Linked DNA regions of Homo sapiens. The protein of the gene in region 2 interacts with the protein of the main gene of each other region in a pairwise test. Each region holds a gene or a part of one and is shown on either strand. Other genes may lie near its edges.

Region 1 (3,806 bases), on a different chromosome or scaffold from region 2:
TATCATCTTACCCCAGTTAAAATGGCCTTTATCCAAAAGACAGGCTACAACAAATGCTAGCAAGGATGTAGAGAAAAGGGAACCCTCATACACTGTTGGCAGGAATGTAAATTAGTACAACCACTATGAAGAACAGTTTGAAGGTTCTTCAAAAAACTAAAAATAACTAGAATCCAGCAGCCCAGACCCCTTTCTTTGTGGTCAAGAAAGGCGGGAAAACAGGTGCAGGACTGCTACATTGGGGAGCGTAACTAATCCGATAGGCAGAGGTCCGTGGGGAGTTACGCACCCTGGAAAGGAACTCACCCCTGAGCACAAAGGCAATTTTGGGCACGCTGGTAAAGGACCACTAGAATCCAGCAGTCCAGACCCTTTTCTTTGTGGTCAAGAGAGGCGGGAAAACAGGTGCAGGACTGCTACATCGGTAAGCGTAACTAATCCGATAAGCAGAGGTCCATGGGTGGTTACGCACCCTGGAAAAGAATAAGCATTAGGCCCTTACAGGACGCTCTAGGACTAATGCTCATTGGAAAATGACTAGGGGTGCTGGCATCCCTCTGTTCTTTTTTCAGATGGGAAACGTTCTCCCCCACAAGGCAAAAACGCCCCTAAGATGTATTCTGGAGAATGGGACCAATCTGACCCTCAGACACTAAGAAAGAAATGACTTATACTCTTCTGCAGTACCGCCTGGCCACGATATCCTCTTCAAGGGGGAGAAACCTGGCCTCGTGAGGGAAGTATAGATTATAACACCATCCTACAGCTAGACCTCTTCTGTAGAAAGGAGGGCAAATGGAGTGAAGTGCCATATGTGCAAACTTTCTTTTCATTAAGAGACAACTCGCAATTATGTAAAAAGTGTGGTTTATGCCCTACAGGAAGCCCTCAGAGTCTACCTCCCTATTCCAGTGTCCCCCCGACTCCTTCCCCAACTAACAAGGACCCCCCTTTAACCCAAACGGTCCAAAGGAGACAGACAAAGGGGTAAACAATGAACCAGAGTGCCAATATTCCCCGATTATGCCCCCTCCAAGCAGTGGGAGGAGGAGAATTCGGCCCAGCCAGAGTGCATGTACCTTTTTCTGTCTCAGACTTAAAGCAAATTAAAATAGATCTAGGTAAATTCTCAGATAACCCTGATGGCTATATTGACGTTTTACAAGGGTTAGGACAATCCTTTGATCTGACATGGAGAGATATAATGTTACTGCTAGATCAGACACTAACCCCAAATGAGAGAAGTGCCGCCATAACTGCAGCCCGAGAGTTTGGCAATCTCTGGTATCTCAGTTAGGTCAATGATAGGATGACAACAGAGGAAAGAGAACGATTCCCCACAGGCCAGCAGGCAGTTCCCAGTGTAGACTCTCACTGGGACACAGAATCAGAACATGGAGATTGGTGCCGCAGACATCTGCTAACTTGCGTGCTAGAAGGACTAAGGAAAACTAGGAAGAAGCCTATGAATTATTCAATGATGTCCACTGTAACACAGGGAAAGGAAGAAAATCCTACTGCCTTTCTGGATAGACTAAGAGAGGAATTAAGGAAGCATACCTCCCTGTCACCTGACTCCATTGAAGGCCAACTAATCTTAAAGGACAAGTTTATCAGTCAGCTGCAGACATTAGGAAAAAACTTCAAAAGTCCGCCTTAGGCCCAGAGCAAAACTTAGAAACTCTACTGAACTTGGCAACCTTGTTTTTTTATAATAGAGATCAGGAGGAGCAGGCGGAACAGGACAAACGGGATTAAAAAAAAAAAGGCCACCGCTTTAGTCATGGCCCTTAGGCAAGTGGACTTTGGAGGCTCTGGAAAAGGGAAAAGCTGGGCAAATCGAATGCCTAAAAGGGCTTGCTTCCAGTGCGGTCCGCAAGGACACTTTAAAAAAGATTGTCCAAGTAGAAATAAGCCGCCCCCTTGTCCATGCCCCTTATGTCAAGGGAATCACTGGAAGGCCCACTACCTCAGGAGACGAAGGTCCTCTGAGACGAAGGTCTCAGGAGACGAAGGTCCTGCTGAACCAGATGATCCAGCAGCAGGACTGAGGGTGCCCGGGGAAAGCGCCAGCCCATGCCATCACCCTCACAGAGCCCTGGGTATGCTTTACCACTGAGGGCCAGGAGGTTAACTGTCTCCTGGACACTGGCACGGCCTTCTCAGTCTTACTCTCCTGTCCTGGACAACTGTCCTCCAGATCTGTCACTATCCGAGGGGTCCTAGGACAGCCAGTCACTAGATACTTCTCCCAGCCACTAAGTTGTGACTGGGGAACTTTACTCTTTTCACATGCTTTTCTAATTACGCCTGAAAGCCCCACTCCCTTGTTAAGGAGAGACATTCTAGCAAAAGTAGGGGTCATTATACACCTGAACATAGGAGAAGGAACACCCGTTTGTTGTCCCCTGCTTGAGGAAGGAATTAATCCTGAAGTCTGGGCAACAGAAAGACAACATGGACGAGCAAAGAATGCCCATCCTGGTCAAGTTAAACTAAAGGATTCCACCTCCTTTCCCTACCAAAGGCAGTACCCCCTTAGACCCGAGGCCCAACAAGGACTCCAAAAGATTGTTAAGGACCTAAAAGCCCAAGGCCTAGTAAAACCATGCAATAGCTCCTGCAATACTCCAAATTTAGGAGTACAGAAACCCAACAGACAGTGGAGGTTAGTGCAAGATCTCAGGATTATGAATGAGGCTGTTGTTCCTCTATACCCAGCTGTACCTAACCCTTATACTCTGCTTTCCCAAATACCAGAGGAAGCAGAGCGGTTTACAGTCCTGGACCTTAAGGATGCCTTTTTCTGCAACCCTGTACATCCTGACTCTCAATTCTTGTTTGCCTTTGAAGAGCCTTCGAACCCAACGTCTTAACTCACCTGGACTGTTTTACCCCAAGGGTTCAGGGATAGCCCCAACTATTTGGCTAGGAATTAGCCCAAGACTTGAGCCAATTTTCATACCTGGACACTCTTGTCCTTCGGTACGCGGATGATTTACTTTTGGCCGCCCATTCAGAAACCTTGTGCCACCAAGCCACCCAAGCGCTCTTAAATTTCCTCGCCACCTGTGGCTACAAGGTTTCCAAACCAAAGGCTCAGCTCTGCTCACAGCAGTTTAAATACTTAGGGCTAAAATTATCCAAAGGCACCAGGGCCCTCAGTGGGGAATGTATCCAGCCTATACTGCTTATCCTCATCCCCAAACCCTAAAGCAACTAAGAGGGTTCCTTGGCATAACAGGTTTCTGCCGAATATGGATTCCCAGGTACGGCAAAATAGCCAGACCATTATATACACTAATTAAGGAAACTCAGAAAGCCAATACCCATTTAGTAAGATGGACACCTGAAGCAGAAGTGGCTTTCCAGGCCCTAAAGAAGGCCCTAACCCAAGCCCCAGTGTTAAGCTTGCCAATAGGGCAAGACTTTTCTTTATATATCACAAAAAAACAGGAATAGCTCTAGGAGTCCTTACACAGGTCCGAGGGACGAGCTTGCAACCGTGGCATACCTGAGTAAGAAAACTGATGTAGTGGCAAAGGGTTGGCTTCATTGTTTATAGGTAGTGGCTGCAGTTGCAGTCTTAGTATCTGAAGCAGTTAAAATAATACAGGGAAGAGATCTTACTGTGTGGACACCTCATGATGTGAATGGTATACTCACTGCTAAAGGAGACTTGTGGCTCTCAGACAACCATTTACTTAAATATCAGGCTCTATTACTTGAAGGGCCAGTGTTGCGACTGTGCACTTGTGCAACTCTTAACCCAGCCACATTTCTTCCAGACAATGAAGAAAAGATAG
Region 2 (4,360 bases):
CAGGTTCTGGTCAGTAAACCCAGGACTCATCCTGTGTCCCTGACTCGACTTACCCATCTTCGAGAACTGAGCGAAGGGAAAAGACACACAGAGCAGGGTCTGCCCGTAGGTACAGGCGCTATGAGGCCAGCTGTATGCAGCAGAGGAGGCCGGTGGAGGGAAGTTAGGTACACTGTGGACCAGCCAGAAGCCCCCATCGTGGTCAAGGAGCAGGACACCTGGACCAAAAGAAGGCATTAGGGGAGGTCGGGCGCAGTGGCTCACGCCTGTAATCCCAGCACTTTGGGAGACCGAGACACACAGATCACCTGAGGTCAGGAGTTAGAAATCAGCCTGGCCAACATGGCGAAACCCCATCTCTACTAAAAATACAAAAATTAGCTGAGCGTGGTGGTGGACGCCTGTAATCCCAGCTACTCAGGAGGCTGAGGCAGGAGAATCGCTTGAACCCAGGAGGTGGAGGTTGCAGTGAGCTGAGATCCACCACTGCACTCCAGCCTGGGCCACAGAGCAAAATTTCATCTCAAACATAAGTAAGTAAGTAAGTAAATAAATAAATAAATAAATAAATAAATAAAAATTTAAAAAAAGAAGGCAGGCCCCACGCAGTGTAATCCCAGCACTTTGGGAAGCCGAGGAGGGCGGATCACCTGAGGTCGGGAGTTCAAGACCAGCCTGGCCAACATGGAGAAACCTCATCACTACTAAAAATACAACATTAGCCGGGCATGGTGGTGCATGCCTGTAATCCCAGCTACTCGGGAGGCTGATGCAGGAGAATCACTTGAACCCAGGAGGCGGAGGTTGCAGTGAGCCGAGATTGCACCATTGCACTCCAGCCTGGGTAGCAAGAGCAAAACTCCTTCTCAAAAAAAAAAAAAAAAAAAAGGCAATTAGAGGGTATTGCTCCAGGCCTCCCAGCAAGCTCATCTGCAATCAGGAACACCCTCAGTTTGCAGCGGGGCTTAGAGAGGGTGCCAGCAGTGTTAGAACCACAGCTGAGCTCAGTTTTTGCAGGCATAAATTCTTATAGTCCAGAATAACGCCAAGAGTAATGTAAGGTAGGGAAACAGGCCAGGTGTGGCGGCTCATGCCGGTAATCGCAGCACATTAAGAGGCCAAGGTGGGTGGATTGCTTGAACCAGGACTTAGAGACCAGCCTAGGCAACATGGCAAAAGCCCACTCTACAAAAATACAAAAAGTAGGCCAGGTGTGGTGGCTCACGCCTGTAATCCCAGCACTTTGGGAGGCCAAGGCAGGTGGATCACCTGAGGTCAGGAGTTCAATATCAGCCTGTCCAACCTGGTAAAACCCCATCTCTACTAAAACATACAACATTTAGCTGGGCATGGTGGCGCACACCTGTAATCCCAGCTACTCCAGAGGCTGAGGCAGAAGAATCGCTTGAACTGGGGAGATGGAGATTGCAGTGAGCTGAGATTGCACCACCGAACTCCAGCCTGGGTGATGGAGAGAGAGTGCCGCAAAAAAAAAAAAAAAAAAAAAAAGCCAGGCGTGGTGGGGGGTACCGGCAGGCCCAGTACTTGGGAGGCTGAGGTAGGAGGATCACCTGAGCCCTGGGAGGTCAAGGCTGCAGTGAGCTGTGATACTGCACTCCAGCCTAGGTGACTGGGTGAGACCTTGTCTAAAAGAAAATAAAATAGGGGAAATAGATGCCCAAGGTCTGACAGGGGAGATCTCCCACCCCACTATGGAGGTCAGGGGTTAGCTTGGAAAAATGCATAGGAACTCGGCTGGGCAGGGTGGCTCATTCCTGTAATCCCAGCACTTTGGGAGGCCAAGGCGGGTAGATCACTTGAGGTAGAAACCAGGAGTTCGAGACCAGCCTGGCCAACATGGTGAAACCTCGTCTGTACTAAAAATATGAAAATTAGCCTGGTGTGATGGTGCGCCTTTAATACCAGCTACTTGGGAGGCTGAGACAGGAGAATTGCTTCAACCCCAGAGGCAGAGATTGCAGTGAGCCAAGATTGTGCCACTGCACTCCAGCTTGGGTGACAGAGCGAACTCCCACCGTCTCAAAAACAAAGAAAAAAAAAAGTTGGGGGGAATAGATGCCCAGGGTCTGACAGTGCAGATCTCCCCGACCACCCCATGCACGTCAGGGGTTACCTTGGAAAAATGGGACCCGAGTCTCTCCCCAGCCCCCAATCCAGGCCTCACCCTTCGTGTGCCCACGCATGGAAGAGTCCTGAGCCTTGCTGGGTTGAGGCGGTTGGTCATTGTAGAGCAGGAAGGCGAGCTGCGGGCGGATAAACGGAGGCAACGTGAAATTCCTCCCAGGCAGGGCAGCCCTAGAGTTTCGCCCCTAGTTGGCCCGGGGCCCCCTTCACCTGGCTGGTGTTGCTCCGGTACAGCGGCTGCAGGCTTCGGCCCACGGCCCCCTCCGGGCTGTTGATGAGTGCCCTGCCGTCCCGCCAGCCTCCGGAGCTCTCGTCCAGATACTTGTACTGCAGCCCTCTCTGCGCCGCCTCCCCGGACCCTCTAAGAGCTGGCAGCTTGTAGACCACGAACCTGGAGGTCGGAGAATGCACAGAAATAGGAGAGAGGGAAGAGAAGGCACCCCAGGGTTCCCCGAGGAGGTAGCCATCCCGGTTGAGTGACCGCAGCCGGACCCCGGGGCGATGGTAGGCCCCCCGCTGCGCACTCACCAGTCTACAGGCTGCCCGGAGTCCCCGTAGCAGGTCAGGGCCCCGGCGGGGACGCACAGCAGCGCTGCCAGCAGCAGCGGGATCATAGCTGCTATGGGGCTGAGATCCAGGAATCTGTGTCGGGACTGCGGGGCGCTGGGTTACATCAGAGGCCAGGACTGGCACCTGGCGCCTTTCACTTCCCTAAACTTGCCTGGGAACCGGGGCGGGGACATCACGAGGGTACAGACTCCTCCCCCGAGACGCGATGCTGCGTTTTGGAGAGGCAAAAGGCAACGCTGAGTCTGCCCAGACCACGCCCACGACGGGCCCGGCGCTCCAGCGTCTCCTGGAGCCTGGCCACCGTTCCTTTTCGTGGTAGCTAATCCCAGCCCACGCTCTTCTGTCTGACCCAACTCCCGCCCGGGTTTCTGGATCAGGCACAAGTTTGTATTTTATTTTTTATTCCAGCCCTACAACCTGGGTCCAACTCTTGGGACCTTTGTTCTTCCTCTTTTTTTTTTTTTTTTTTTTTTTTTTTTTTTGAGACGGAGTTTCACTCTTGTCGCCCAGGCTGGAGTGCAATGGCACGATCTCGGTTCACTGCAACCTCCGCCTTCCTGATTAAAGCGATTATCCTGCCTCAGCCTCCCGAGTAGCTGGGATTACAGGCGCCCGACACCACGCCCGGCTAATTTTTGTAGTTTTAGTAGAGACGGGGTTTTTCCATGTTGACTAGGCTGGTCTCGAACTCCTGACCTCGTGATCCACCAGCCTCGGCCCCCGAAAGTGCCAAGATTGCAGAAGTGAGCCACTGCGCCCCTTAAGAAGCATTTGTGTTCCAGTGTATCTTCCCCTTTTTCTTTCTTTTTTTTTTTCCTTCCTTTTTTTTTTTTTTTTTTCCCGGACAATATCTCGCTCTGTTGCCCAGGCCGGAGTGCAGTGGCGCAATCTTGGCTCACTGCAACCTCTGCCTCCCCAGCTCAAGTGATCCTCTCACCTCAGCCTCCCGAGTAGCTGGGATCACGGGCACATGCCACTATGCCCAGCTAATTTTTGTAGTTTTTTTTTTGAAACACGGTTTCACCATGTGGCTCAGGCTGAACTCCTGAGCTCAAGGGATCCACCTGTCTTGCCTCCCAAAGTGCTGGGATTACAGGCATGTAATCCACGCCACCCAGACTCTCCTTTTTCATTCTGCACGTTTTCTCCAGGATCCCCTGAGCTAGCAAAGAGGTGACTGTATGTTTGTTTTTTGTCGTTTTGAGACAGGATAATGGTTTCTCACCCAGGCTAGAATGCAGTGACTCCATCACAGTTCACTGCAGCCTCAACCTACTGGGCTCAAGAGATCTTCCCAGGTAGCTGGTACTACAGGCCTGTGCCACCACACCCAGATAATTGTTCATTGCAGAGATGAGGGTCTCACTATGTTGCCCAGGCTGCTCTGGAACTCCGGGGTTCAAGTGATTCTCCCACCTCAGCCTCAAAGGATCATGGCAGGGCAAAGGGCTATGGGAATCTGAGTACTGGCTTGAAACTGCCTTTGCAAAAATTATGACAGAAAATTATGTCAGTGAAAGAGCTCTGACCTAACCAACTCCATCTTGCCTTTAATCTCCAAACTGCCCTTGCTTGGTCATTCCTGGAGTGGGGTCAAGCTAACTTTTTTTTTTTTTTTGACACGTTGTCTCACTCTGTCGCCCAG

The links.
Region 1: the proteins of DNASE2 (region 2) and XRN1 interact in a two-hybrid assay, tested with the Homo sapiens proteins (one large-scale study listed by BioGRID).

Annotation. Positions count from the first base shown.
Region 1 is NC_000003.12:142,437,995-142,441,800, forward strand, and holds part of XRN1 (5'-3' exoribonuclease 1), read right to left. Parts: intron 1-3,806. UniProt on the Homo sapiens protein: Major 5'-3' exoribonuclease involved in mRNA decay. Required for the 5'-3'-processing of the G4 tetraplex-containing DNA and RNA substrates. The kinetic of hydrolysis is faster for G4 RNA tetraplex than for G4 DNA tetraplex and monomeric RNA tetraplex.
Region 2 is NC_000019.10:12,878,617-12,882,976, forward strand, and holds the start of DNASE2 (deoxyribonuclease-2-alpha precursor), read right to left. Parts: upstream 2,834-4,360; 5' UTR 2,760-2,833; coding exon 2,674-2,759; intron 2,537-2,673; coding exon 2,356-2,536; intron 2,265-2,355; coding exon 2,186-2,264; intron 219-2,185; coding exon 54-218; intron 1-53.